Linked DNA regions of Homo sapiens. The protein of the gene in region 1 interacts with the protein of each later gene in a pairwise test. Each region holds a gene or a part of one and is shown in the gene's direction. Other genes may lie near its edges. The genes, in order: RFC5, TSNAX, XAF1 and ARID5A.

Region 1 (7,330 bases):
GCTTGAACCTGGGAGGCAGAAGTTGCAGTGAGCCAAGATTGCCCAACTGCACTCCAGCCTGGGCAACAAGAGTGAAACTCCATCTCAAAAAAAAAAAAAAAAAAAAAAAGCAGAAAATAACAGACAATGAGATCATTAAATTCAATTTGATAAAATTTTGTTTTTAGACAGCATCCATTGTGTTTCTTAGAAAGTGAAGTCCTGCGGCTGGGTGCAGTGGTTCATGCTTGTAATCCCAGTATGAGCCACTTTGGGAGGCAAAGGTGGGTGGATTATTTGAGCCCAGGTGTTCAAGACCAGCCTGGGAAACATGGCAAAACCCTGTCTCTACAAAAAATACAAAAACTAGCCGGGCGTTGTGGCATGCGCCCACATTCCCAGCTACTAGGGAGGCTGAGGCGAGAGGACCACTTGTGCCCTAGAGGTGGAGGTTGCAGTGAGCTGCGATAGTGTCACTGTACTCCAGCCTGGGTGACAGAGTGAGATCCCTCTCTCAAATAAATAAATAAATAGGAAATCAAATTCCTGGAGTGCTTGAGGACTGAGAAGCAGGGTAGTATAGTGATATGACTCTCAAACCTGAGCGATTCAGAATCCCCTCAAGGGCTTGTCACAACACAGATGGCTGGGCCCCAGCTGTGAAGTTTAAGATGTCTTGGGTTTGAGGTGGTGGGAAGAATAATTAGAATGTCTAACAAGTTCCCAGGGGCTGCTGTTGATGCTGTTGTCCCAGCATGGGCTATATAGAATCAGACTATATTAGCAAGATCCAGTTCTGCCCCTTACAAGTGAGAACCTAAGCAAGGTACCTAACATATCTGCAAAATGGGGCCAATGATAGTAACTTGGGCTTCTTGTAACAATTGAGTGATCATAATAAACGTAAAGTGCTTAGAACAGTGTCTCGGCCATAGAAACTGCCTAATGGATATGAGCCATTTTCATTCATTCATTCATCAAACAGTTATGAGTTGAGTACTTCCTTTGAGCCAGGCAATGTTTCAGGCCCCAGAAGTACAGTGGTGAGTAAGTCAAGGTTCTCCTCCAATGAGCTTACATTCCATTGGGAAGGCATACAATAGATGACTTTGCAACATATAATCTAATGTCAACACAGGAGAATTCTACATTCCAAGTTAACGGAACAGCAGATGCACACAGAGTTTTATGATAAGTTGTTCTGTTCTTTTTTGAATCTTCCAGCTCAAGGAGGTGGCAGCATCATGCTTCTAATGCAAAGGTCCTTAGAAGGATGGTTCTTACCATGAATGGCTCGTACCATGATGGTAAGGATGGCCTTAACCATCAATAAGGGCAGATTATGGCATAGTTCCACTAGCCAATCCTTTGGGTTTTGTTTCAGAGGACAAATTTGAAACCAGAACAGTTTGGGTGGAGAGTGTTAGGAGGGAAGGGAAGAGTAGGGTGGCGATGTATTGGATGCTGCACATTTGTTCTTTCATTTAATCCTTACAACAATCTTTGAGTAAATATTATTGGATAAGGAGAGAAGAAACCTGCCCAAGGCTAAGTGGAAAAAGTGGCATCCCACCCCAAGGGTACCTAATGCTTGGCAAGGAGCAAAACCACTGAAGGGAGAACAAATCATGAACAAAGAGAGAAGGATCCAGAGTCCACGTGGCCATCTTCAAAAGTTTGCCTTTGCCTTGCAACTTAAATTGCCTTTCTCATGAGAAGCAAAAACATTCAAATGCACCATTTTCCTGGCATGTAGGAATGCTTTGGTCTACATGTTCACTGCACTGATTCTAATAATTCTTTAGCCTTTATAATTCTTTTCATTCTCCTGGAACACTTGAGGATTTGGGGACTTGCTTAGGTTTCTCTCCATAGGCTGTGTAAAGATTTTTAGAGTTGAACTGATTCGAGGCAGGTCTTCTGACACCCAAAGCAATGCTTTCTTGATGACTTCTCCTTTAGTTTCAAAAGCCACTGTATTAGTCCATTTTCATACTGCTATAAAGAAATACCCAAGACTGGGTAATTTATAAAGGAAAGAGATTTAATTGACTCACAGTTCTACATGGCTGGGAAGGCCTCAGGAAACTTACAATCATGGTGGAAGGCGAAGGGGAAACAGGCACCTTCTTCACAAGGCGGCAGGAGAGAGAAGAAAGAGTGAAGTAGGAAGAGCTCTTTATCAAACCATCAGATCTTGTAAGAACTCACTGACTATCACAAGAACTGCATGGGGGAAACCGCTCCCATGATCCACTCACCTCTCTTCCTGGACACCTGGGGATTACAATTCAAGATGAGATTTGAGTGGAGAAACAGAGCCAAACCATATCAGCCACCCTTTAGGATTTTACCCCAGTGTGAAGCCTGCGTCTCAACAATTAGATCGTTGGTGAGGAGGGTATAGCACCATTTATTTCTTTAGTAATCTTTCATAATTTTGCTTAGTTATTGTATCAGTTGTTTTCTAAAATTGTATCAGCTGTTTTCCTTTATTTTTATACCCATCACTTGTATTTTATGCCTTTTAAAAAACAGAAGTGGGCTGGGTGTAGTGGCTCATGCCAATAATCCCAGCACTTTAAGAGGCCCAAGGCAGGCAGATCACTTGAGCCGGGGAGTTAGAGAGTGTAGTGAGCCGTGATTGTGCCACTGCACTCCAGCCTGGGTGACATAGTGAGACCTTCTCTCAAAAACGAAACAGAACAAAACCCCAGGAGTGTTCAAAGACCCCAGAATTTGGCAATACATGACAAATATTTAATGTGTTTCTATAACTTTAATTCAGAGGCATCTATATCTCACCTCAGCATGTGTCAGCAAATTAATTGTAAACATGTGCTGATTTTTAGCCTTAGTATTTAAGAAAAACTTGTTAATCATTTATGATTCCCTTCCTGGAGATAAAAATGAATAAAACCAGTTTTATCTTAAAAGAAAGAAAGAAAAGTTTAAAAATGGCATGCTAATGATCTAAGCCCCCAGTGTTAAAGTTTCCTGGGAGCAAGCAGAGTAGGGGCACTGTCACATCACAAGCCCTAGCTGATCCCCTTCTTCGGGGTCCCCAGGCAGGGGCTAGGGTGAAGCCATAACTGCCATCACATACTTGCCACTGTCCCTCTGCTGTGTTCCTGAAGCAGGTGACAGTGATGTAATCCTATGCAAAGAGTATTGCTACCTCCTAATCAGAACACTGCTGACCCCAGGCCAGCCTCAAAAATCCTCCAGGATTTTTGTCTTCCTCATCATGTTAAAAGAAAAAAAAAAAGAAAAGACTTCAATATGGATGCTTTGCATGCTCATTGCTGGAAAATACAGACCAGGCCAGGCGCAGTGGCTCACGCCTGTAATCCCAGCACTTTGGGAGGCTGAGGCGGGTGGATCACTTGAGGTCAGGAATTCGAGACCAGCCTATCCAACATGGCAAAATCCCATCTCTACTAAAAATACAAAAATTAGCCAGGCGTGGTGGCGCGCGCCTGTAATCCCAGCTTCTCCGGAGGTTGAGGCAGAGAATCGCTTGAACCCGGGAGGCAGAGGTTGCAGTGAGCCGAGATAGCGCCACTGCACTCCAGCCTGGGTGACAGAGCAAGACACCAAAAAAAAGAAAAGAAAATACAGACCAACAAAAAAGAAGAAAATAAAAGTGATCTAGAATTCTCCTCGCCTCAGGAAAAAAACCTAAAATGTTGATATCGATTCTCCTCAGTATCTCAGATCACAAGGACCTTGTCCTCTGTGTTCATGAACTAGACCTTCCAGCGACACAGATTAACCCAACTGGAAGTTTCTGTTTGTTTTTCTCTGGAGTCGTTTTCTGGAGGTTGGTTCCCTAAACTTTTTGGGCGAGGGGCACGGATTCCGGAGATAGGTAGGTTGCAGTTGTGTTTGTTTGGGGTTGTTTTCATTTCCAAATATTCACCTCCCAGCTTGGGGGCCGAGAGGTATCTCAAGCCTTCTTTCGCAAAGGCATCTATATTCAAGACCCAGCCGTTTTACTCGGTGTTGTTTTTTTTCTTAGATTTTTTTTTTTTTTTTTGAGCCCCGGCAGCTTTTGTTCCTTTGAATTTAAGTGTTTGAAGCTTGGCGATGGCAGGAATTGGCTTTGGCCTTGAGATCTTAATATGTAATGATGACTGGGGCTGCAGGGGGCCCTGCCTCTCCCGCTGCCCTGCTCTGGAAGCGCCTGGGTATCTGAGAGTTCAGAGCAGGCTGGAGGGGCGGAGCTTGGAGGGACGCTGGCGGCCCGCGCCTCCGGTAACCTAGCAACCGACGCCCTAGCAACGCGAGGGGGCGGGACCGAGGGAGGAAGTCGGAAACTGGTGGCCGCGTCTCGCGAGAGTTGCTTTTGCGCGCGAACTGTAAGTGCCAGGGTCTCAGGGTCAGGTCGCGGCTGGTCACTGTGCAGGCGCTTGGGTGACGCGACGATCTCAGCGGATCTGGTCACCTTCGTCTCCCCGCCATGGAGACCTCAGCACTCAAGCAGCAGGAGCAGCCCGCGGCGACCAAGATCAGGAACCTGCCCTGGTAGGAGGAGGCCGAGCGGCGGCGGTGGGCAGAGGGGGCCAGGCGGCCGCGCGGGGAGGAGGTGGCTGGGGTGGCAGGTGACCGGACCCCAACCCGACCTCTTCCCGTCGTCTCCAGGCCTGCAGCCGGGACCGACCTGCAGAGGTTTCCCCCGACACCCCCCAGCTACCCAGACTCGTCCGTTCTGTTTAGGGCTTTTGCCAGTTCTCACCCTTTCACCCCCAGCTCCATTTGCCGAAGAAGAAGGCGGCTTTCGCACCTGGTGACAGCACAGGGGTTCGATCCCGCGTCTCCTGACGCCTGCAATGGCCTCCATGCCAAAATGCCCTCTTCCCACTCTTCAAAACCTGCGATGCGACTATTGGTCACATTTTAAACTAGTAATAACGCTCCCTGGTCAACTTTTATTGAATGGCATATTATTAGATTAGCAGACGCCCTGTTAGATGTTCGATCCTTACAAAGACCGTAGGAGGTAGGCACCGCTTCAAATTTTACACAGGAGGAAACTGCATTTTAGAAAGATGTAATGACTTCCCTATGGTCCAAGGGAGAAAATTGGCTTGGAGGTGAATCTAGGAAGTCTGAATTCAGATCTTGTACTCTTAACCATCCTACTTAAACAGCTATGTTCTCGCAATGCTTCCAAGACTTTGAAGCAATTTGGCTTGGCTTCGAAAAGCTGCAAGTTGTCATTGTCTAGTAACTAGTTCAATTTGTCTTTATTGTGGTTAAAAAAAACCCAGAAGATTGACAGTTGTAACTATTTTATGTATTTACGTATTTTTTTTTTTTAGAGACAGGGTCTCGCTCTGTCGCCCATGCTGGAGCGCAGTGGTGTGATCACAGCTCAGTGTAACCTCAAACATTGGGGTTCAAGCCATTCTCCTGCCTCAGCCTCCGAAGAACTGGGACTTTTAGAGGCGAGCTACCAAGCCCATCCTGTAACCATTTTAAAATGTACAATTCAGTGGCATTAAGTACATTCAGAATGCAGTGTACTGTTGTGGAGTCTTCCCGCTATCTAGTTCCAAAATTTCATCACCCCAAATGGAAATCCTTTACCCATTGACAGTTACTCCCCATTCTCCCCTTCCTCTAGCCCCTGGCAACCACTAATCTGCTTTCTATCTATGGATTTGCCTATTCTGGACATTTCATGTAAGTGGAATCCTACACTATGTGGCCTTTTGTGTCTGGTTTCTTTCACTCAGGATCATGTTTTCAAGGTTCATGCATGTTGCTGCTTGTATCAGTAGTTAATTTCTTGTTATGGCTGAATCATATTCCATTGTATGGACAGAAGAGATTTTACCTATCCATTCTTCTGTTGAAGTCTATTTGGGTAGGAGTTCAGTTTCAAATGCACTTTGCAATAGTAGGTGCCCATCAGGTTGAGATTATAGGCAAACAGCTGGAAAGATGAAGTTAGAACAGAGTTTTCAACCTCAGCACTATTGACATTTTGGGCCAGATACTCTGGGTGGGTTTAGGGGAGCTGTCCTGTGCACTGTAGCATGTTTAACAGCATTCCTGGAGACTACACACTGAGTGCCATAGGACCCTCTGCCCACCTGTGACAACTAAGTATGTTTCTAGATATCACTAGATGTTCCTAGGAAGACAAAATCACCTGTGGTTGGGAACCACTGGTCTGTTCAAACTTAAAGTGCTTTCTTATTCTTCCTTTTTAAATTAGGATATGAAAGGATTCTGTTTTTTTTTTTAAGACAAGGTCTCACTCTGTCGCCCAGGCTGGAGTGCTGGAGTGCAGTGGTGCAATCTCGGTTCACTGCAACCTCCGCCTCCCGGGTTCCAGCAATTCTCCCACCCCAGCCTTCGGGGTAGCTGGGGCTACAGGGGTATGCCACCATGCCCAGCTAATTTTTGTATTTTTTGGTATTTTTTATTGAATGGCATATTATCGGGTTAGCAGACACCCTGTTAGTTGTTCTATCCTTACAAAGACCCTAGGAGGTACCCATAGAGACAGGGTTTTGCCATGTTGGCCGGGCTGGTTGGTCTTGAACTCCTGACCCCAAATGATCCACCCACCTTGGCCTCCCAAAGTGCTGGGATTACAGGCATGAGCCACTGTGCCTGACCTGCAAGGATTCTTTTGCACATAAAATATTCTTGCATTTATATATGTCATAATACATACTAAATTGTATTTCAGGGTTGAAAAATACCGGCCACAGACCCTGAATGATCTCATTTCTCATCAGGACATTCTGAGTACCAGTAAGTATTCATGTGTCAGTTGCTCTTGTCCTGCTTGAGCGACTTGTATAAATTGCTTGGTGATGTTGTCTCTCCTAAGTAATAACTTCAAAGAATCTGATTGCGCTTTGTAGAATGTGGCTTTAAGATCATTCATTCATTTTCTTCAGGTTGCTACAGTCCAGTGGGTAAGTCACAAACATGAGCATAAAATTGCAACACAGTGGAGTAAAAATAGCATTACGGAGAATCATTTAAGTTCACAGATGTTGCCAGCACCCAGAAAGGTGCCTGTAACACAGTAGGCACTCAATAAATACTTGTTGACTGGCTGCGCTATTGAGTGAATTCCAGTTGTTCCACGAAAGTAGATATGAGGCCCCTACATCAAGTTGTATCTGCCTCTGATTTGGACATTGAATTGGGTTGAAGAGCTTTCAGCCCAACTCAGGAGCCCAGGGTGAATGAGGCAGCTCCCAAAGACTGATGGTGCCCTTCTTCCTTCCTGATCCTCAGTTCAGAAGTTTATCAATGAAGACCGACTGCCACACTTGCTTCTCTACGGTCCCCCAGGGACAGGCAAGACATCTACCATCCTAGC
Region 2 (7,018 bases), on another chromosome or scaffold:
TGTCAGCTACTAATTTAGTTAATAGTTTAAGTTCTTGTTTTTTCAGTTCGTGCAATATACATGATTGGGTGTTTCCTATAGGCCAGGCAGCTTGCGGGGCTGTGGAGTGAAAAGACTTGGGAAATAAAGGCGTTATTAAGAGAGTTAAGTGGTTTAAGGGTATTTCAAGGTACAGAGCTTGATAAATTCAGGAAGTTTATACTTGAAATTTGCTAAGTAAGTAGATCTTAAATGTTTTTACCACAATTAGCTGGGCATGACAGCATGCGCCTGTAGTATGCTTATAGTCCTGGCTACTCCGGAGGGGCTGGGGCAGGAGGACTGCTTCAACTCAGAAGTTTGAGGCTGCAGTGAGCTGTGATTGGGCCACTGCACTCCAGGCTGGGCAACAGAGACCCTGACTCAAAAAGGAAAAAAAAAAAACTAACTGAGGTGATGGATACGTTAATTAGCTTAATAGTGGTAATAACACACACACACACACACACACACACACACACACACACACACACACACACACACAGTTTTGGTTTTTTTTTTTTTTTGGAGACAACGCCTCACCCTGGCCCAGGCTGAAGTGTGCAGTGGCGTGATCTTGGCTCACTGCAAGCGTAGCCTCTTGGGCTCAAGTGATCCTCCCACCTCAACCTCCCAAGTAGCTGGGACTACAGGCATGTGCCACCACACGTGGCTAGTTTTTAGATTTTTTTGTAGAGGCAGGGTCTCACTGTGTTGCCCCTGCTGGTCTCGAACTCCTGGGCTCAAGTGATCTGTCCCCCTTGGCCTCCCAAAGTGCTGGGGTTACAGGCATAATCAATCATGCCTGGCCTTATAATTTTTAATTGTCAGTTATACCCCAGTAAAGGTGGAAAAGCAGGAAGACAACAGGGAAAAAAATTTTAATAAACTTGAAAAAAAAGGTCCAAGTTTCTTTTTTTGGAGGTGTTTATATTATTAATATATGTGGTTAAAGTAATTTTTAAAACTTTATGTAACTCTTTGTTACGTGTCATTTTGTGATAATCTCTTGTTTACTAAGTTCATTTTTTACAACTTGTACAGTATTCCCATTGTGAGACTAAGTAGTAAAACCCAGTTAATACATACCTATATTTAAAGAGGAAAATATTTTAGTTGAGCCTTTTTGATTTCCATGTAATTTAGAAATAAGATGATTTTATTCTCTTCATTTTCATAAACTGAATAATTATTGCTTTCTTACATATAGAGACAGTACTTTTAGGTACAGACTGTTTTTGCTTTCTAGCCATTTGTATTCTAAGAAAATTAAAATCATTTCCCTTTTTTTTCCTTTCATAAGATTTACCAAGTGTTTTGGAAAAGTTTGACATAAAAGCTTACAGGTCTGTCAGAGGAGATTTTAAAAGGGATTTCATGGGAAGTCTTTTTTTTTTTTTTTTGAGATGGACTCTCACTCTGTCACCCAGACTGGCGTGCAGTGGTGCAGTCTCAGCTCACTGCAACCTCCGCCTCCCAGGTTCAAGCAATTCTCCTGCCTCCGCCTCCCAGGTTCAAGCAATTCTCCTGCCTCAGCCTCCCAGGTAGCTGGGACGACAGGCCTGTGCCACCATGCCCGGCTAATTTTTGTATTTTTAGTAGACATGGGGTTTCACTATATATTGGCTAGGCTGGTTTTGAACTCTTGACCTCAAGTGATCCACCCACCTCAGCCTCCCAAAGAGCTGGGATTATAGGCGTGAGCCATCGCGCCCGGCCCGGAAAGTCTTTAATGAGAAGCACTAGCTTCCAGACAAAATTTCATGAGATAGTATAGTTTGTTCAACTCAAACCCAGGATCTTTAATGTCCGAGCAACCACTTTGCTATCAAAGTTGGAGTTAATTGCATTAAAAGGAGTTATCAGATCAATATTCTACTGTTGTTGAATCATCTGAGTAAAGAAATACTGTCTCTTTTTAAATTTATTTTGAGGTAATCTCAAATTTATTTAAAAAACTAGAAGACTTAATGCAGTTGGAAAAATAGTACAGAGAATTTCTGTATAGACTTGACTTAGATTGACCAATTTTTAACATTTTGCCACTTTTGCTTTATTATTCTCTCTATATATGTAAATTTATATGTCTAACCATATATTCTGAACCATTTAAGAACAAGTTGCATGCATCATACCCCTTTACTTGTTAATACTTCAGAATATATTTCCTAGGAAGAAGACTATTCTGTTGTATAACTCTAGTATTGTTAACTAATTTCAGGAGATTTAACACTGACATAATACTTTAATCTACAGTGCATATTTTGACAATTGTCTCAATAAGGTTCCTTCCAGCTTTTTTTCTCTCTAGTCCAGTAATCTAGAACAGGATCACATATTACATTGTAATGTCTCTTTTTAGTTTTCTGTGATCTGGAACAGTTTCCCAGTTTTGTCTTTCTTGACAATGATATTGATTGAAGAATATAGGTCTTATTTAATAGAATATTCCTCAACTTAGATTTGATTAATATTTTCTCATGGTTAGATTCAGGTTATGCATCCCTGGCTGGAATACTACATAAATGATGGTTTGTTGATTTGTTCTTTTTGGGGGTATTGCAAGGGACCAAGTAATGTAAGGCTTCATAAAGAGTTTGGAGTTTGTTAAACGTAATGCAGAGTCATTAGAGAGTCTTAAAAACTAAAGTATATTTTAGAAATGTCACTCTGGCAGCTACAGAAAGGCAAGGTGGGCAGACGCAGACCAGACAAGAGACTATTTTGTAGTTCCGGTACAGTAAGGTATTTGTAAGGTAACTTAGAGGTAATAAAGTAATAAGGTAACTTAGATTTGGATGACAGTAATGAAGCTGATGAGACAGATTCAACAGTGCTTTATAAAATTAACTTATATTACTATTATGAGTAATTTATACTTTATTCCAACTGCATTAGCATACATTTGAAAAAGTAATAGCAGCAAAATAATAAGACATTATTCCATGTTAGGGGCAGTGCTTATTGGGCACATGGATTTGCAGTTCCTTTTCAACAATTTCTTAGTTCCCAGGAGATTGCATACCCTTAGTACGTTTATCTCAAACTACAACAGATGCTCTTATCCAGTATGTTATACTGCTTATGATTTCAACAAGCAGTTCAGTCAGGAAATGTTTTGTGAACACCTGCTGCTAGACATGGATCTATGCTCTGATACAGTGGTGAAACAAGTGCATTTACAAATAAATAATATAATTTTAGCTAGCGAAGGATAAATGTAAATCAGTGAAGCGTGGTAAGGAATGGAGAGTAAGGGAGGAGGGAGGCACGTGATTCTTAAGCAGTCCTTGAGCAGAATGATATCTGAATGATGAAAGTGAAATGTGAGATGATGAGAGGCAGTAGCAAAAATAGAGGCATCAAGAAAGGTACAAGCTTAGAGAATCAGGACTAGCAAGAAGACATAGTCTGCCTGGCTCATGAGCTAAGGGCAGGACATGAGGCAGTTTAATGTGTTAGAGGCATGAATTTACTATGAAAAGATTCTAGATTCTGCGGGTTATTTTTCCCATAGGTAATGTAATCTTTATGTAGACTCCCAGTTGTTGTACTGTTTTATTAAATGTTAGGTATATACAACGTTCTGTAAGTATAGCTTTGTGTTCTGGAAAAGGTAAACAGTCTTTCTTCAGTTAAATTTATTTAATACCTTTTGCTCTAAGTATATTCACAAAACTTTAGATGTAGTCTTTTAAACAATAATACAAAGTAATTATTTTGTTAACTGTTAAGAATTTTAGTAAGGAAAAAATTTTGAGGCTGAAACATCTGATAGTGGTATAATGAAAGCTTGTTCTTTAAAAAAACTTAAAACACTGTTTTTGTTTGGCAGTCTCAAGTTAGGCTTTCCGTAAAAAGTTTACCAAGGTAAAATTCTTTGAGTCTCAATATTCGAGACTAAAACAAATTAAGCAGAGTAGATGAAACTTAAGTTAGCATAAAAGGTAAGCAGATTGGCAGTTATATGTAATAGATAGAAACAAAAGTATTCCATTCAGCATTAAGTGCTGATCGAATACAGGTAAGGAGAAAACAGTAACTATAAGGAATCAAAGTGCTGACATTTAAGGAGACAAATGTATGAAAATTTTCCTGAAGGCAAGACATGTTAGAATTGTGAAAATGCTTTGTTCTGTAAGGAAAAGGATGTATGAAAGTGGGGAGGAAATCTTTTCTTAATGTAATATTATGTTATGGGAGATTTGTGTCCGTAACAATTTGACAGGTTGAAGATTAATTCTATGTGGAAGTGTTGAGTCTTCGAAGATAGTATGTAAGAATTGGACACCACAGCCTGCGTTCAGCCTTTCATCGATCTCAGGAACTCTTCTTCATTTTCTCCTACTTTCAGTTCTCTTCCTAGATTTCTAACATCCTGACTAACTCAATTTTCAGCTGACTTTTTTCCAGCCTAATTAAATTTTGATGTTTCTTACTGATCATTTTCAGATGAACTCTGCCACAGCTTTCTATTGATTGCAGAACTACTTTATGATCTAGTTCTCTAGTTATAACAAAACTAACTCATGTAGTGATTGTCTATTTTCAGTCATTTTTCCTTTTTTCTTCTTTACTAATCTTTCTGAAAATAATATTTCTGAAGTATATTATGCTTATGTATGCAATATTACTACATGGTAAAACAGTAAATTTGAGATTATGTACTTTCTAAAATAAACGGGCTAACTAGATTTTTACTTAGTATTTAAATGTGATATAATTTGGTAGCTTTTTAAAAAATTAAGATACAATACACATACTGTGGCACTCACTTTTAAGAAGTTGTTTCATGTTCATTTTAATATACACGTGCTACCTTACTACAATTGACAGATTTTTAGAAAATCTTCAAGGATTCAGGAATTTGTGAGCTGCTGTGCGTTGTTGGCATTTACAGAAATTATTAGATATTTAGTTTTAAAGGTTTAGAAATCTGGGAACATTAACTGGACCTCTTGAGCTACTTTAGCGCTGTTAGTGATGTATACCTAGGATATTTGACAATTAACACTAGAGTCAGTAGATGCTAGAGATTGTTTATAATCACCTTTTTGTGTTTTGAGAATTAGTGTCATTACCATCGTGTTCTACTTCTGAATGAAGTCAGGTGACTGCAGTCATTGTCTGCATTTACATTGTGACATCTTTTTTTTTTTTTCTTTTTTTTGAGACGGAGTCTCGCTCTGTCACCAGGCTGGAGTGCAGTGACTTGATCTCGACTCACTGCAACCTCTGCCTCCGGGGTTCAAGCGATTCTTCTGCCTCAGCCTCCCGAGTAGCTGGGACTACAGGCACATGCCACCATGCCCAGCTAATTGTTTTATTTTTAGTAGAGACGGGGTTTCACCGTCTAGGCCAGGATGGTCTTGATCTCTTGACCTCATGATCCACCTACCGTGGCCTCCCAAAGTGCTGAGATTACAGGCGTGAGCCACCGCACCCAGCATATGTGACGTACATCTTAAAAATATTGTTTGGTAGGCTTTGAGTATAGAATATACATGCTTATGATCATAATGTGTTTTTAGCATTTCAGCAGGAACTTGATGCAAGGCATGACAAATATGAGAGACTTGTGAAACTTAGTCGGGATATAACTGTTGAAAGTAAAAGGACAATTTTTCTCCTCCATAGGATTACAAGGTGAGTAAGCATCTTTAGAATTTATTACAGTTTGATACTAGCTATTAGAATATTCTGTGACTTTGTGAGGATTAGAAGACATCAGCAGTAGGTACAACTTAAGAGTTAATATTTTAATAAAAATAGGTCTCAGCTGGGTGTGGTGGCGCATGCCTGTAATCTCAGCACTTTGGGAGGCCAAGGCGGGCAGATCACTTGAGCTCAGGAGGTCGAGACCAGCCTGGGCAACATGGTGAAACCCTGTCTCTACTAAAAATACAAAAATTAGGTGGGATTGGTGGTGCATGCCTATCATCCCGGCTACTTGGGAGGCTGAGGTGGGAGGCTTGCTTGAGCCTGGGAGGCAGAGGCTGCAGTGTGCCAAGATCCCACCACCGCACTCTAGCCTGGGCGACTAAGCCAGACCCTGTCTCAAAAAAAAAAAAAAAAAAGGAAAAGTCTGTAGGGGTTGGGTGGACTTAAGAAAGAAAAATTCAGAGCAGCTAGGGATTTTGTGTTAAGATTATTCATTAAGATATAGCTATTGTCTGTGAAAATATATGATATATTTTGATTGTTAGAGCCTGTTACATTAAACTTTATTTGGATGATATGCGTGAAAATTTTAATATTAGATAAATGTTAAAATCTGCATAACCTATTTTCTCGTTCATTTTTGAACTCATGGCAGTCTGGCTTTCTGCCTCACAATTATTGAAATGCCCTTGTTACCTTCATATTATTAAGTCTCTGTTTTCTTATTTTACATTTTTGTAGCATATGATACTGTTGACTACTTAATTCTTTTTCGAAAGTTCCTGTTTCAGTTTTGTGACTTTTGTTTACATTTTTTTCTCTAGGACTTTACTATTTTATTTTTCTACGCAGGCTTTGTATATTTGATAGACTTCGTGATTGCAAGTAAAAGAAACTAACTTAAACTAGTCTAAGCAGAACGGGGAAATTAATTATAAAAAAAGCCACTATCAACTAGCAGATTTCTTATTTTATGCACTATTTTCTATTACAGTTGTAATCATATTATTCATACAGTTTTGACTAGTAAACTGAGAAAATAGCAGACTTCAGAAAAATTAGAACTTCCCAAGATTCAGCACTATCTTATGAGCAGCTGAGGATCTCCATCTTCCATCTTTGCTTCTTTGTTTGCTTCATAATTCATTTGACCTGATTCCTTTGCCTGTTTCACGAGAGGTAGAATAGTATCTACCCTACAACTCCCCAGCTTACGTGTTTTAGTCCAGCTTCTGAAGACGGATTGTTGTTACAAATTCCAGATGTCTCCAGAAGGGTAGCTGTGATTGGTTTTATACTATATGTCACAGAAAGAATGTAGGGAAGATCACATATAATT
Region 3 (7,958 bases), on another chromosome or scaffold:
TGAGCTGCTAAGTATTTAACAGCCAGATCTTGGGGATGGGGAGATACTCGATTTGTAGCATTTGCCCATTTCCACGGTTTAAATACTCTCACTATGGCCAATTTTAAGGTATCAGCATGACCTTATAAATGGAACATTAAGAAGAGATGGACAGGTCGGGCCCAGTGGCTCATGCCTGTAATCCTAGCACTTTGGGGGGCTGAGGCAGAAGGATCACGAGGTCAGGAGTTCAAGACCAGCCTGGCCAAGATGGTGAAACCCCATTTCTACTAAAAATACAAAAATTAGCCTGATGTGGTGGTGGACGCCTGTAATCCTAGCTACTCAAGAGGCTGAGGCAGAGAATTGCTTGAACCCGGGAGGTGGAGGTTGCAGTGAGCCGAAATGGCACCATTGCACTCCAGCCCGGGCGACAGAGCGAGACTCCTTCTCAAAAAAAAAAAAAAAAAAAAAAAAAAAAAAAGAAGAAGAAGAAGAAGAAGAAGAAGAAGAGATGGACACAATATCTTGGAGCCAGTGTGAATCATTGTAAGAAAGACCACGTGATGTCAAGGACAGGGTAGGAAGAAACATAAGTTTCCATTTTTAAAAATTAAAACACTAGTTATTCCCTAAAATGAGAGTCTGAGTGGCTGTTCATTACCACAACTTAACCATATGAGTATGTTCACCCCAAATTCTGAGTGAAAAGACCCTGAAGCTCTAAACTTTTTCTCTTTCACCTCCCCCGCTCCACCATAAAAAGAAACAACAAAAAAATTGACATATATGGTCATTTGTCCTGAGTTCCATGAGATTTGCAGCAACCAAGGGGACCATACCATGATCAAGCTATTAAAAAATTGGTTGGATGCAGCGGCACATTTCTGTAATCTCAGCACCTTGGAAGACCGAGGTTGGAGGACCACTTGAGGCCAGTTCAAGACCAGCCTGGGTAACATAGTGGGACCCCATTTCTACAATTTTTTTTAAAGTTAGCTAGGTATGGTAGTGTGTGCCTGTAGTCTGTGTGAAGGCAGGAGGATTGCTTGAACCTGGGAGTTCGAGGCTGCAGTGAGCTATGATCACCACTGCACTCCAGCCTGAGTGACAGAGACAGACTTCATCTCTTTACCCAATATGTGTAATCTGGGAAGAGGAGAAGGCTCATAACACTCACCCTTGTAAACATCAGGGAAGAGACCTTGACATTTGGACTGTGATTGCTGATTGGACGGGAATGGGTTGGCAGGGGAAGTGGGTGAGATGTTTTAACCAGGAAAAAGAAAAAAACAAAAACAAAACTATGAATGTGTGAAAAGAGACTTCTCAAAGAAAGAAAGGAAGAGAAAAGTACTGGTCACTCCCCACACAGACAGAATGCCATGGAGTTGCTCTTTCTTGCCATGAGTTTAATGACAAGCTTCCTTCCCCTTCATATGCCAACTAAGCAGCAGCCAGCAGGTCATTCCCCGTCTTTGCTGCCCAGCCAGGCCTAGAGTCTTCCCCAAACACAGTCACAGATATTCCCAGGCTTGAATGCCATCCAGAGACTAGTCATCTGATGCAATTTCCTGTGGTCTGACAAACGAACTCCCATCCAAACACGTTGTGCTTGGGGAGTCTGACTATATGATCACATCTCCCAGGACTCAGGCCCACTCTGACCACAGGATTCTTCTAAAGACACCACCGACAGAAGTGTGTGCAATTGCACCATATAATTTTTGTCTGGGAAGTGAAATATCTCTGTCGTTACATCATCTTCCTTAGCATAGTGATCCCTTAAAAGAAGAAAGCCTAAATAAGATCCCTTCTCAAAGCCAAACTATTAAAACAATCCTTTTTAAATATTCTTTCCTGTCTTCCATGCTGTACAAGTACAGCTTTCACACAATTTCTCTTCTGATCTTCAAAACAATGCACGGAGGGGTGTATTATTCCTGTGTCCTAGTCCAGCCAGGACTTCCTGCTCCCCTTTCCCCCCGATTCCTGCAAAGGTGACATGGCCAGCCCGGCCAATTCACGTCTGAGAGACTGGCTTCCTGTGACAACCTTCACCCCCCTCCCCTGACCCACAGGCCTGACACAAAGAGACTGCCGGAAACTCCCCACAACGGCCAAGTGGGTAGCCACAGTGTCCTGGAAAGGAATTCTAAGCCCACAACAGAGCATTTCTCATCTAGCTGTTTTTTGTTTTTTTTTTTTTAAATGGGATTGGGGTTGGCGACCAGCCAAAGACGGGTGGCAGAATGATGAAATCATACAAGCCCACAGCACCGATTGATGTCGTAGTGGAAATGGGGACAGGCTTTTGTGCTAACCAGAGTGTTCCTACATACACTCTCTGATTAATAATAGTGATGGCCCAGGAACAGCCGTGACAGTCAAAGAGAAACATTGCTGTATTTGTAACATTCCATTTTTTTAAAGAGTGTATATTCATATATTCTTTATGAAATCTAAGTTATCTTGAGAAATGAAAAGAAAATGGCCATTGCTGCCACTTTGAGAGCCCTCCGACTCAGGGGTGTTGTGTGGGTTGGGGGAGATTTCCAACTCCCTGCTTAATTATCTCAAAACACCCCATCCATTCGGGTCAGCCAGCATTTGACTGCCTGCTACTGCGAAGCTCAATACTGCACTCTGCCTAATAAGCACAAAGCCCGCGGGTCTCTCCAGGAAGGCAGGGGTGGTGGGTCAGAAAGAGCTGGCTCTCAAATCGCCCATGCCTGTGATTGGATGGGGAGGAGTTGAGACAATAGACACACAGCCAACTAACCAAAGCCAGAGACAAAGGAGGTAGATTCTAGATCAGTGTTGGCATAGGAGTTGGTCCTGAAGAACTGCTGGGATTTTGATGAGGAAGGGAAGGGTTGGCGTGGGTGGGACAGTCTATAGGAGGAAACATCTTGGAAGAAAATTAGGATGTAGATGAGAAGCAACTTATGGTCACTTCTAATTCCACTCCTATCCCCTGGCCACACATTCCATTCCTCTAAGGTGTCCAATCTATACACCCCTGCCACCACCCCTATCCCATCTCAGCAGGAGACAATATGTGAAAAGAAAGTTCTTCATTTTTCCTTCTTTTCCATTTCTTTCTTCCTGTCTTTCTTTCTTTTTTTTTTTTTTGTAACAGAGTCTCGCTCTGTCGCCCAGGCTGGAGTGCAGTGGCGCGATCTCGGCTCACTGCAGGCTCCACCCTGGGTTCACGCCATTCTCCTGCCTTAGCCTCCCGAGTAGCTGGGACTACAGGCACCCGCCACCTCGCCCGGCTAATTTTTTGTAGTTTTTAGCAGAGACGGGGTTTCACTGTGTTGGCCAGGATGGTCTCAATCTCCTGACCTCATAATCAACCCGCCTCGGCCTCTCAAAGGGCTGGGATTACAGGCATGAGCCACCGCGCACAGCCCTTTTTTTTTTTTTTTTTTTTTGAGACAGAGTCTCGTTCTGTTGCCCAGGCTGGAGTGCAGTGGTGCAATCTCGGCTCACTGCAACCTCCACCTCCTGGGTTCAAGCAATTCTCCTGCCTCAGCCTCCTGAGTAGCTGGGATTATAGGCAAGCACTACCATACCCAGCTAATTTTTGTATTTTTAGTAGAGACGGGGTTTCACCATGTTCGTCGGGCTGGTCTCGAACTCCTGACCTCGTGATCCGCCCACCTCGGCCTCCCAAAGTGCTGGGATTACAGGCATGAGCCACCAAGCCAAGCCCACTCGTTTTTCATTCTTGATATTGACAGACTGCCCAGAGACAGACAGGAGTGGGTAGTGAGGGTCAGAAGGATTAAGGAGCTTGCCTAGCCGATGAGGAAGGGAACAAGATAAGATGCAAACCTCAGTCTCTGACTCTCAGCCAAGTGCTCACTACCCCAACTAGCTGTCAAATGAGGTGGATGGGGCCTTGGTTAGGTACATAGACACCTGAGTCATATCAACCTGGTGTGAATCCCAGCTCTGATGTTGAGCGATTGGCCTAGCCTCTCTCTGCCTCCATTTTCTCTTTTTTCATTTCATTTTTCTTTTTTGAGGCAGAGTCTCACTCTGTCACTGCCTCTGTTTTCCATAGCAAAATGGAGTTAATAATGCTTACATGAGGGATTAAAACGAAGACAATGCCTACCTAATGCTTAGAATGGTGCCTGGAACATAGGAACAATGTTGAAACAGTCTTTCATTCTTCCCTCCTATCACTGTGATCATCAGTACCACCACACACTGCTTCTCATTTAGTGCCTGAATTTTAGAGCCTGCCTGGAGGCTGGAGCCCTGCCTGGACATTTCCCTTAATCTTGTTATCCTCCTCAGAGAGGCGGCACCCACCCCATTGGCAGACGCCACGGGAATTCTCTGGGCCTGCTTGTCATCACTCCAGATGTTGTTTAGAGTTCTTCTGTTAGCACAGCTGTTTCTAGGGTCTGGAAAAACTCTAAGGACCCCCAGGAGGATACACACCAGATTGGGTCTGGGCTCACACCACCCTGCATCCCCAGAGCCTCCCTGGACGCTGTTTGCAAGGTCCTCACCGCCTGGAAGTCCAGGAGCCATTTTTAGGGAACAGCATTCAAGCTCAACATGGCAAGTTCCCTCTTTCCTGCAGGGGAGGACCAGAAGGGAGCCGGAGATGGGGGAGAAGGGTGGGAGGTGGATGGTTTGGAAAAGGGATGGAGACCCAGACGGAGAGAAGCCAGCCAGCCAGGGTGAGGGAACAAGCTGCTGTGCTGCCCAGGAGAGGCCTGGCCTCAGGCTGCCAGCCTCAGGGAGGTAGATGCGGCTGTGACAGCAGCAAAGAATGACGGCCAAGGGCGACAGCAGGGGCTGGCCATGCTGTAAAGGGGCTTCTTGGGAGGGTCCAGCCTCAGGAATCAAGGGGAACTCCTGAGCCGAGAATTCTGAAGATCTCCTCCCTCCCTGAAGCTGTGGGCTGGGCCATCGGAAAACTTTCAGTTTTGTTTCCTTGCCTGCAAGAAACGAAACTCAACCGAAAGCCTGCAGAGAGCAGAACATGGAAGGAGACTTCTCGGTGTGCAGGAACTGGTAAGAAAGTGCTTTCTCCAGCGGCAGACCCGGGCTGGCGAGGGAGAGACGTAGACGACATAGGGCTGTTTCTGAAGGGAGCAGAAAGTGGTTCCTGCATAAGAACACTTAGGAGGACAAGCAGCTGGAGACCGTGGGCCCCAAGGGTAGGAGGGTTTAAACTTGGTAATCTCTGGGTGGGGGTGGGCAGCATTACCTCCACTTCACTGCAGCCCCTTTCCCCCAAATGTTAGGCTTTCTGGGACAGTTCTGAAGCCAAATAGCCCGGCCAGTGGTCCCAACTGGGCTACTCATACTTGTGAGACCTTGGGTCCTAATTTGGGGTTCTGATACTATGACCTTCACACCCATCTGTGAAAGAAAGTGTCCCACGGAGATTCTCCAGGACTACTCTCACCCTCCTTGGAAAGGGAGCCGTGGGGCGGGGCAGGGGGGACAGAGCAGGGGGCTGGGACCACACCTCTAACGGGAGGGGGGGCGCGGAATCTGACCGATCAAAAAGCCCCATTCTCAAAGCTCCCTACCTGTGACAGGGACCTGAGTGGACCCTCCCCAGAGAGCTTTGCTCCAGCCAGACCCTTCAAGTACTCTGGTTTCTCAACCAGCCCAGGAAGAGCAGGGGGAGAAGGGGCCAGGTCAGGCAGAGGAGAGAGAGCAGAGGAAGGGAAGATGATGCTGCCTGTGTGCCCGCTGCCTGGGCAGAAGAGGAGTGAGGCTTTGACAGTCCCTCTCGGAGCACGTCCCCTGTGCCAGGAACATGGGCATGTAACTCTTCTCGTCCCCTGGGCCTTTACGGCTACAGCCACCCCATTTCCCTTCTCCCAAGCTGCCACAAGCAAGAGCTGATGGAAATGAAAGGAGTCATTTCTTTCTTTCTTCTTCTTTTTTTTTTTTTTTTAAGATGGAGTTTCGCTTCTTTTTGCCCAGGCTGGAGTGCCTGGAGTGCAATGGCGCGATTTCAGCTCACTGCAACCTTCATCTCTCGGGTTCAAGTGATTCTCCTGCCTCAGCCTCCCGAGTAGTTGGGATTACAGGCGTGCACCGCCATGCCCGGCTAATTTTGTATTGTTTTAGTAGAGATGAGGTTTCACCATGTTGGCCAGGCTGATCTCTAACTCCTGACCTCAGGTGATCCACCCGCCTCGGCCTCCCAAAGTGCTGGGATTACAGGCATGAGCCACCACACCCAGCCAAAAGGGGGCACTTCTTGGCAAAAAGGACGGTTAGAGAAAAATGCCCTGCCCAGGAAGTGGGAGGCTCAGAACCCTTCCTTCACTGTGGTCTCCAGGAAGAACCTCGGAGTCTCTGTGAGTTAGCGCAGGTGAACCTGAAGGCAGGGGAGACTTGGGAAGCTCTCGCTTTGGAGATTTTGGAAGTTGGCATGGCCCTGGCAGGAAGCGTGAGCCTAGCAGGGCTGCGTTCCTAACACTGTGGACCAAACAGGGGCACCAGAAAACAAGAAAAAAGATTCAAGAGAATTTGGCACTTCTCTCAAATTATTTAAATTGAAATAATTTAATTATTTACATTATTTAAAATGAAATGTTTCATTTTAAAAACAGCCTTATAGAGGTATAATTGACCTACAATAAACCTCACATTTTAAAGGGTAGCAATTGATAAGTTTTGGCCTAAGTTATATACATCCATGAAACACCATCCCCGTAATTGAGATAATGAAGCTTCCTGTCACCCCAAAAGCTCCCCATGCCCCTTTGTAATTCCTCCCTCCTGCTCCTTCCCATGCCCTGCCCCAGCAATGTAAGAGCTCTGTAGATCATCCTTATTCTTATTAGATGCTGCCTCACTGTTCTGACTTTTGGACCCACACAGGGAGTGTGGGGCAGGTGGTGTCATCATCATCACATGTTCAGTGCTTAAGGCCTCTGGAGATCTAGCCCTGGGTATGAAATACAGCTCCATGTTTTATAATATGAAAATAAGTCTATTTTTCTATCCCCACACCTTGACCCTGTAGTAAAAGACATGTAGTCTCTGCCAACTTCACCCTCCATGAGGCTTACTGCCTGCGGTTCCTGGTCCTGTGTCCGGAGTGTGAGGAGCCTGTCCCCAAGGAAACCATGGAGGAGCACTGCAAGCTTGAGCACCAGCAGGTGAGGAGGCGGCAGGGAGGATGGGGTCTGAGAGTCAAGGTGAGTGTTCAGTCCTCCCTGCAGGTGAGATGGGGTCTGAGAGTTGGGGGACGAGGGTCTAGTCCTCCCTGCAGGTGAGATGGGGTCTGGGAGTCAAGGCAAGTGTTCAGTCCTCTCTGCAGGAGAGATGGGGTCTGAGAGTCAAGGCGAGTGTTCAGTCCTCTCTGCAGGTGAGATGGGGTCTGAGAGTCAAGGCAAGTGTTCAGTCCTCTCTGCAGGTGAGATGGGGTCTGGGAGTCAAGGCGAGTGTTCAGTCCTCTCTGCAGGACAGATGGGGTCTGAGAGTCAAGGCGAGTGTTCAGTCCTCTCTGCAGGTGAGATGGGGTCTGGGAGTCAAGGCGAGTGTTCAGTCCTCCCTGCAGGTGAGATGGGGTCTGGGAGGGGCAAGTGTTCCATCTTCCCTGCAGGAGAGATGGGGTCTGGGAGTCACAGAGTGGGTCCAGTCCTCCCTGCAGGAGAGATGGGGTCTGAGAGTTGGGGGACGAGGGTCTAGTCCTCCCTGCAGGTGAGATGGGGTCTGGGAGTCAAGGAGAGTGTTCAGTCCTCCCTGCAGGTGAGATGGGGTCTGGGAGGGGCAAGTGTTCCATCTTCCCTGCAGGAGAGATGGGATCTGGGAGTCACAGAGTGGGTCCAGTCCTCCCTGCAGGAGAGATGGGGTCTGAGAGTTGGGGGACGAGGGTCCAGTCCTCCCTGCAGGTGAGATGGGGTCTGGGAGGGGCAAGTGTTCCATCCTCCCTGCAAGAAAGAAGGGGTCTGGGAGTCAGGGAATGGCTCCAGTCCTCCCTG
Region 4 (7,990 bases), on another chromosome or scaffold:
GTGTCCCCAGGCCGATCCCCAGCCCTTTACTCCAACGGTAGACCTGAAGCTGTCGAGATATCAACTCAACATCTTAGGAGGGAGGGGAGACACTGAAGAAAAAAAAAACAAAACAGCTGCCCCCAGGAGGGACAACGATTCTCCCAAGAGCAGGCAGTCCCGAACTTCTCCCAGCACCCTGAACAATGAGGTAAACGGAGGTGTGGCGGGCCGCTCCCCCTACCCCTGCTAGCTGGATGCCAGCCCCCACCGCAAGCCCAGGGCTCAGCTGGCAGGGCCCCGCATGCAGCCCCCGCCGGGGGCAGGGCTGAGTGGCAGAGCGCAACAGCCGTGCCCCCTTCCTGGCCGTGCTCCTGCCTGGGCCTCTGGAGCCTGCCTCTCCCCCTCTGATGTAAGCTGATATTTTAATTCTCTTACAAGGAATGGTGTTTAGAGAAATGACTTAACCAGATTACTCATCGTCTCTAATGACTTGGCCCGACTCCAGCGCTATTCCTAGACGTGACGCTTGAGGCTTCGATTCTTTCTCTCTTTCCTTTTGCTCCTTTTTTTTTTTTTTTAAATACCAAGAAATTACAGCCCTGCCTACGCGGAGGCCCAGCCCCTACACGCCCCCTTTGCATGGTATCCTGGGAGATGGAGTTCTGTCCTGGCCCCAGTCATGCCCCCATCCCCAGCCCAACTCCTCGCCCCTCTCCCGCCTCATCTTGGTGGGAGATGGGCAGGGTGTGGCTGGGCAGAGGTCATTTAATCTCTACATGCCTTGGTTTACTCTTCTGTCAAATGGAAGGGTCACCTGACATACAACAGAGAGTGGAAGTGTCAGTTGAGACCTTATTTTAAGTAAAAGTGTCACAGAGACCCAATGGTTTTAAGAGATTTCTTGTCCAGTGCATTTTGTGCTAAGCACCAGTCAAGACTCACACAGAGCTTTAGTTACCCTGACCCTGGGACTTACCAGGGCCTGGCCCTCACCCAGCCCAAACTTACTCCTTCCTGTCTGTGGACGAGTCTGTGGGCTTGTCCAGCACTTACTCTCTGGTTCTCAATTGTAATAAGGGGATAGATATAGATACAGCGCCCACTTCAGAGGGCTAGAGTGACATTGAAAGAAATACTCCATGCAAGATGGTGCAGTGTGTGTTAGGGTCCGCCCTGGTCCAAGGCATTTTCACCCCTTTCAGCACAAGGCCTTGGCTGAGTAGCTGGAGCGGGGACTGATTCTTAGTAGCCTGTGAGGTTGGCAAGGGCCACATCTTCTGCTCCACAAGGATACGGACTTCTTTCTGGTTGTGGCTACATCCCAGGTCTAGCTCAGTGCTGGCACATAGTAGGACCACACAACACATGTTGGATGAGTGGATGACTGAATAAGTGGAGCATTATCCTGCTTTCCACGGGAGGGGCCTGAGGCCCTGACAGGTTAAGTGTCCAAGGCCACACAGCTGGGCTGTGTCTGAGTGGGAATGAAACCCCCAATTTTCTCTCCTTGCCCTCCGTTCCCCTCCCCCAGGGGAATTCAGCTTCCACCCTTCAGGCTCAGGAAGTTCAGAACCATGGGTTTCTACCCTGCTGGGACACACTGGGGAGATGTGGGGTGGAGAGGGGAAACCAGCCCAGCCCTGGCCCAACACAGGAAATCTTTCCAGATTGGCTGGAGGTTGGAGGGAACCTAGAGCCAGGTGCAGATGCAGCTTCCAGTGTGGACAAAGCTTGGGAAGCTGGTTTACACGCGCCCTGGGGTACAGTGGCCAAAGCTCTTTCAGGCAGGAAGTTGGCCCTTGGTGATCTGGGACTCACAACCACCTCCCCACTCCTTCACCCCCAGCAGTTCCCCAAAGGCCAAAAGCTATTCTTGTCTTTTTCTAAAAGAGGCATTTGAACCATGAGCCAATTTTTTCCATTCCTGAGCTTGGGTATCATCTATTTCGGGCATTTGTTGTTTTCCATGAGTTGCAAATGCTGCTGTGAAGCTGGCCTTTCCTGGACAGCTAGCACGGGGAACGAGGAGTTAGGCAAGCAGGGCGGGGCCGCGTTAAAAATACTTCCCCACTTCATTTCTCCTTTGAAAACAAACCCCCAGGGGCCTTTGGCAACTGCTGAGCCTGGGAACTGAGCTTCCCAGGATAGAAGACTGGCTGTGCATTCTGTTTCCTGAGGGCACTGGATGGGTTTGCAGGTCCCAGAAGAAACAAAAGCACTGATTTTGCTGTGTGACTTTGGACAGTTTGCTTAACCTCTCTGGCCTGGTGACCTCCTTTCTAAAATGAGACCAGGTGGACAGATGATCTTGAATGGTCCCTATATCTCTGAGAGCTCCAGGATGAGAACCACCCCCAGGGCCAGATTTTCTTCCTAGAAATGGGCTAACAAGAGGTGCTAGGACATGGAGGTGGGAGTTAGAAAGCAGCTTTTAGCTCAGTCTCTGGGAACACTTTGTGAGCTCCTTAGCCCTGGAACTGTTCTAAGGGGGTCTATAATGTTCTCAGCAGGATTCATGTAATTGCAAAAAGATTAAACGCTATCAAGAGGAGATTAAATACACTGTGCTGGGCACACAGCCCAGCAGTTCCCAAAGAAGCAGATCTGTGTTCCAACAAGGAAAGTCTGTAAGATCTAGCGGTGATCGAAAAAGCAAGTTTCAGAATGGAGCAATGAGAATTGTATCGTTTCTTTAAACACACACATAAAACAAAGCTATCTATTTTTCTATACCATGGATACATATATAGTTTTGAAAATACACATAGGGAAAGTTCTGGAAGACTTCACCCAATCTGATGGGTCTTTACCTCTGGGGCAGGGAGGGAACTGGATTTGGTGTAGCATCAGAGAGGGCTGATTTACTTGCATGTTTTTACAGGACGAATGTGTTTATTTATAAGTGATGGTTTGTTTTTCTTATTATTAAGACACACAGAGAGACACCAGGACACTGAGGGGCTAGCTGACCCCCTCTGTAGGCACAGAGGCGTCCTGGCCTGGGATCCTGTGGTTGGAGGGTGCAGAGGAGGGTGGCTTTGGGCCGGAGTGGAGGTGTGTGAGATGGAGGCTTGAGCAATGGAAGTGTTTATGCTTTTAGCCAGATGAATGGAGATGTCTGTTTTCTGCAGGATTTACTGGCCATTGTAAATTACTTTCTATTGCAAACAGTTGCCTCAGGAAGCAATTAAATTTAGATCCTATCGTTCCCAGGCTGGCACAGGCAGGTGTTGACTTGCTGAGGCTTTGCACAACAGCCCTTGTCTGTCAGAATGTGCCCAGCTGCCCGGATGGCAGAATAACCCTAACTCTTGGTGGGATGAGCTGCTGTCTTATAAGATAGTGAGTTCCTTGTCATTAGGGGTATCCAACCCACAAGTGAGGGGTTGGCCTAGATTGTGACCCCGGGGGCTGCATCCAGAGCTCCATCCCCAACCTTGGGCATAGTGCCTGCCAATCAATGCTTCCAGAATGTACAAAGGTGCTTCCTGATGGCATCCCATCATAGTGTCTTCCACCACAGCCTTAGCTTTCCTGGAGGGGAAAGTGGCTTGTAAACTTGCCAAAGTGGGATGCATTGTTATAATTACCATTATGATTGTTCTGGGTGTCTATTACCAATTCTACAGGTGCTGGCTCTTACAAGCCAACCCATTATGAGGTAGACAGGGGATTTATCCTGCAGAGCCCACAGGGTCGTCTGCTCTAGACTGAGCCTGCAGACATCTTCCATCCCAGGGCCAAAGGGTAAGGGCCAGGGTTTCAGGTTCACCAAACTGCAGCCCTGGTCCCTTCGTTTAGTGTGAGGAGGGGCACCAGTATGATGAGTGGTTAGTAATGGGTGCAAAGCGGGTGGGGGGATGCCTGGGTATGAGGGCTCCTCTTCCTGGGTCTAGCTCTGGCTCCAACACCTACCAGCTGTGCTACTTGAGCTAATCTCTCAGACCTCAGTTTTACGCTATAAAATGAGGACAATGATGGTGTCAAGTGCATAGAGCTATTATGAGTATTAAAATTCATCAACAAAGATTTTTGTGTAGCTTCTATGTGCTAGGAACAGGGTTCCCATCCTAGCTAGCCACCTGCTGAGACTGAAACCCTGAGCCTCCATTTCTTCCTCTTTGGCCTGCACAGGTCCAGGTTGCTGCTATGGCTGGCTGGGCACCTCCTCCTGCCTCCATTCGCCCTAGGCCTCATTCCCACCTCCCACAGCCTGAACTCATGCCCCTTCTTTGGACTACTCAGCTTGTAGCTGCCACACTCTGTCTGCATTATGTGTGTGGACATTGACTATTACTGGCAGGCCTGGCCACAGAGCCTAGGCCAAGGATTTACTAGTTTGGTCCTTGTCTAGCTCACACTAACCACCTCTCCTTTTTTTTTTTTTTTTTTTTTTTTTTTTTTTTTTTGAGGCAGGGTCTCCGTCTATTGCCCAGGATCCAGGATAGAGTGCAGTGGTGTGATCAAAACACACTGCAGCCTCGACCTTCTGGGCTCAAGTGATCCTCCCGCCTCCGCCTCCCAAAGCAGGGATTCCAGGCGTGAGCCGCCGCTCCCGGCCTCACCTGGCCTTCTTTGTTGGGCTAGGTGGGGACTGGGAAATGCACAGGGCCACTTTCAAATCAAAGTCAGAAGCACTTTGCTCGCTCCACAGAGTCCTCAGTGCTCTGCTGAAAGCAAGGAGGCTTTTTCCAAGGCTCTAGTTTTGCCTCCAGGGAAACTGAGGCACAAGGCAGCAATGATTACTGAGGGTCCTGCCTCCGCTCCTCTAGGTGAGGAGCCTATTCCAGGGGCTCCAGTCTGAAAGCCTAGAGGCGAGGGGCGCGCACTACAATTCCCAGAGGTCCCCGGACTCAAGGGCGGTCCCCGCCCCCCGCCTTCTCCGCGCGACGAAGCCGGGCTTACCAATGGGAGCCCGGAGTGGGGCGAGCAGGGGCGGGACGGGGCGGGACTGCGGGGAGGTGGCCGGCGGGCCGCGCCGCGAGCCAGTATCTCAGAGAGCGCGGGGTCCGGACAGCCGCGCGCTGAGGGTCTCGGGGCGGGCGCCGCGGGACCTCTCCGGGCCATGGGTAAGCGGCTCTGCGGCGCGGCCCGGACAGGGGCTCGGCGGCCCTGCAGGGAGGTTCAAGGTGCCGGCGCCGGGTCCCCTCCAGCCCTCGTGGCAGTCGGTGCGCTGTGTGGGGCGGAGAGGGGCCCGGGGTGGGTTTCGGGGCGCGGGCCAAGGGGAGCGAGCCCGGCCCGCGGCTTCAGCGCTCCCCGGCCGGCGCGGAAGGGGTGAGGCTGGGCGTCCGCGCGAGCTTCGAGAAAAGGAAAGACAAAAAGTTTTGGCGGCCAGGGGCTTCCCGGGCGTTTATCTCGAAACTCTTTTCGCCGTCTCTTGCCTGAAATATGCCGAGCCCGGTACGGCTCTGTCGTCCCACTTCCTGCTGCGGTTTCCACCTCGAGCTGGGCTCAGCTAATTTGTTGTGACAGCTGTCGGCAGCCGCCCCTCCGCCCCGTGACATCCCGCAGGTTTCAGAACCGCGGCGCCGCCGGGCACAGACTCCGGGTCCAGAGCGCGCGGCCCTTTCCTCTGCGGCCGCCGTTTCCTGAAAGGGGCTGCGCGGGTGTGAAGAACTTGCTCAATGCGCTTTGTAGGATCCACTGTTCCTCTTTCGGCCGCGGGCTGCGCCGATGGTCCGGGGAGCCCGGCTTCTCGCCCCCTGCCCCTTCCTTCTCTTCCCTTTTCTCTTTTCCTCTCCTGTCTCTCCGCCCACCCGCCGCAGCCCCACAGGAGAGGGGTCGCTTCCCTGGTTGCTCTCCTCTCCTGTCCCTTGTGTGTCCCCTTGTCTTCCCTCGGTCTGCAGAAGGGACGGGGTGGCGGCTGGGGAGCGTCAGGGGAAGAGGGCAAGAGCGTGGGCTACGAGCTTGCAGGCGATGCCCGGCTTCGCGCTCGGCGGGAGCTGCGGGCCAACCCGGGCCCGCGCTCCGTCCCTCCGCGGTGTCTAGGGGTCGCCCGGGCTGGGGTCGCGTCACCCTCCGCCCAGCGCCGGCGTGGTGGGGCTTGCGCGGTGCAGGACCCCCGAGGGCCCAGGGGGTCCCAAGGCGCTGCGGGTCCAGTGTCCCTTTGTTTGCAGAGTCTTGGGCCAGTAAGGAGTGCTCCGCGGGCCCCAGGGGAGGACAACAGGTGCCTCTTGCCCCACCCGGGCTCCTCTGGTGGGAGCCCACACGCACGGTGGCGTCACTGCGCCTACAGGCAACGCTAGAGCACAGGAGGGGTGGGAGGTCGGGGCTCGAGGGCTTCACCCCGCAGCAGAGCTCAGAGCCCAATCCAGGCCTTAGGGACCCGCCTGGGGCCTAGAACTTGGTGTGGCAGAGGTAGAAAGGGCCTCCGATAATCTGCTTCTACAGTTGAGAGACGTCAACTGGCACCTCTGAGCCTCTGCCCCGTAGGTGAAATGGGAACACACGAAACCATCTGAGGAGCTCTCACTGTCCGTCACCACCAAATGTGGCCCAGACTCCGTGGGGAGGGACAGTCCCATCCTGGAACTGGGGCTTTTAGGACATCCCAGAGCCCGGTAAGAGGGACAGGGAGAATGGGGCTTGGAAGTTGGTAGCCTCACATTCAGTGTCCCCCGCACCTCCTTCCCTTTCTGTACCCTCTGGTGGCTCTTGTGGCCTCAGCTGCCCCCAGACCCTGTCTCTCTCGCCCTCCCCCAAGCTGAGGTACTGAGGTTGGGCTGTGGCTTGAGCTGCACCTGTGCCCTGTTAGGGAGTGGGGGTCCCAGGCCCATCGCGTTTCTTCTCACTGCTGGCTCCAGCTCAACACTTGGCAGGCCCCCCTCCCCAAACTGCTGGAGCAAGCTCGCGTAGACTCGGCCTGGCCGCCGCTCCCGGGCTGCCGAGTGGACCGGCCGTTTCGCCGCTTCAAAGGCTGTCTTTGTTTTGCTCCAGCTCAAGCTTAGAGAAACTTAAGCCAACAACCTCAGCCGAGGGGGCGGGGCGGCGTCTGCTGGTTGTTATTGAGGCTGCTGTTACCATTATTGTGGTAATTGACGCAGTGTTCCCAGTCGGTGACTTTTCATGAAAGGAAGTGTCACTTCCTTCCCATCACACCCAGGGTGAGTGGGGCGGGCAGCAGAAAGATGGGGAGGGAGAGAAGGAAAGGGGTGTGTGCCTCCAGCAGACCCTTAAACTTGAGAGCTGTGTGGCCTTGTACTAGTCACTGCCCCTCTCTGGGCAACAGGGGTCTGTAAGTCCATTGCGCTCATCCTGCACCCAGGAGGCTGATGTTTCCGGAGCACCTGCTGGGCAGCGAGGTGCCTTGGGGAGGGAGCAGGACAGGCAGGCCTCTGATCTTCTCACTGAGCCTGGCTGTGGTTTGTGGGGGAAGCCTCCTTTCTCTTCTCACTTTTTTCTGCTGAGAACATTGGGCACATTGAGTCTAGCACGCCCATCTTGTAGATGGGGAAAGGGAGATACAGAACCAGTGACCAACTTGGTAAGAGGTGCAGCCATGCAGTGCTGGAACCCCTTGCCCCATCTGTCCTCTTGGCCCACTTTCATCTGCTTCCAGCTTGATGTCTGGCAGGGCAGGGGCCCACTGACTTCCCCGCATCCACCCACTGCCTGGCCCCATAGCTACCTTCTAGTCCTGGCTAAGCCCCGTGAGACATCTTAAGTTTGTCTTCAGTGACTCTCAACCACCGCCCGACTGCCTTCACCTTCCTGCCTTTGCATACCTGCCTTTGCTTCGCCAGGTTGGTTGGGCCCTGGCCAGAGCTGGCCCCCTACTCTCTCAGGTAACAGGTAGCAGTTTTTTAAATGGAATCTCAGTAGGTATCAACAGGTCTTTCCTCCTTCCTCAAGATTATGGAGATAACACCCCTTATTCAAAGATGGTGGGTCCTCTGGGCCCTCCCCGACCCAGGCCAGGGAAGTTGATTCATAGAGTGTGGGGGCCATGCCCCTTCCCGGCCCTCCCCCTCTCCCCGCTGCTGCCCAGCTCTCTGACCAGCCCCCTCCC

Evidence for each region.
Region 2: the proteins of RFC5 (region 1) and TSNAX interact in binary tests that used the Homo sapiens proteins (3 or more experiments, as listed by UniProt).
Region 3: the proteins of RFC5 (region 1) and XAF1 interact in binary tests that used the Homo sapiens proteins (3 or more experiments, as listed by UniProt).
Region 4: the proteins of RFC5 (region 1) and ARID5A interact in binary tests that used the Homo sapiens proteins (3 or more experiments, as listed by UniProt).

The regions. Positions count from the first base shown.
Region 1 is NC_000012.12:118,012,387-118,019,716, forward strand, and holds the start of RFC5 (replication factor C subunit 5), read left to right. Parts: upstream 1-4,316; 5' UTR 4,317-4,441; coding exon 4,442-4,506; intron 4,507-5,303; exon of another isoform or gene 5,304-5,665; coding exon of another isoform or gene 5,666-5,667; intron 5,668-6,685; coding exon 6,686-6,750; intron 6,751-7,245; coding exon 7,246-7,330. UniProt on the Homo sapiens protein: Subunit of the replication factor C (RFC) complex which acts during elongation of primed DNA templates by DNA polymerases delta and epsilon, and is necessary for ATP-dependent loading of proliferating cell nuclear antigen (PCNA) onto primed DNA.
Region 2 is NC_000001.11:231,531,664-231,538,681, forward strand, and holds part of TSNAX (translin-associated protein X), read left to right. Parts: intron 1-5,549; coding exon 5,550-5,664; intron 5,665-7,018.
Region 3 is NC_000017.11:6,751,092-6,759,049, forward strand, and holds the start of XAF1 (XIAP-associated factor 1), read left to right. Parts: upstream 1-4,954; 5' UTR 4,955-4,987; coding exon 4,988-5,019; intron 5,020-6,997; coding exon 6,998-7,133; exon of another isoform or gene 7,134-7,251; coding exon of another isoform or gene 7,252-7,534; exon of another isoform or gene 7,535-7,677; coding exon of another isoform or gene 7,678-7,868; intron 7,869-7,958. UniProt on the Homo sapiens protein: Seems to function as a negative regulator of members of the IAP (inhibitor of apoptosis protein) family. Inhibits anti-caspase activity of BIRC4. Induces cleavage and inactivation of BIRC4 independent of caspase activation.
Region 4 is NC_000002.12:96,531,780-96,539,769, forward strand, and holds the start of ARID5A (AT-rich interactive domain-containing protein 5A), read left to right. Parts: upstream 1-4,972; 5' UTR 4,973-5,047; coding exon 5,048-5,051; exon of another isoform or gene 5,052-7,990. UniProt on the Homo sapiens protein: DNA-binding protein that may regulate transcription and act as a repressor by binding to AT-rich stretches in the promoter region of target genes.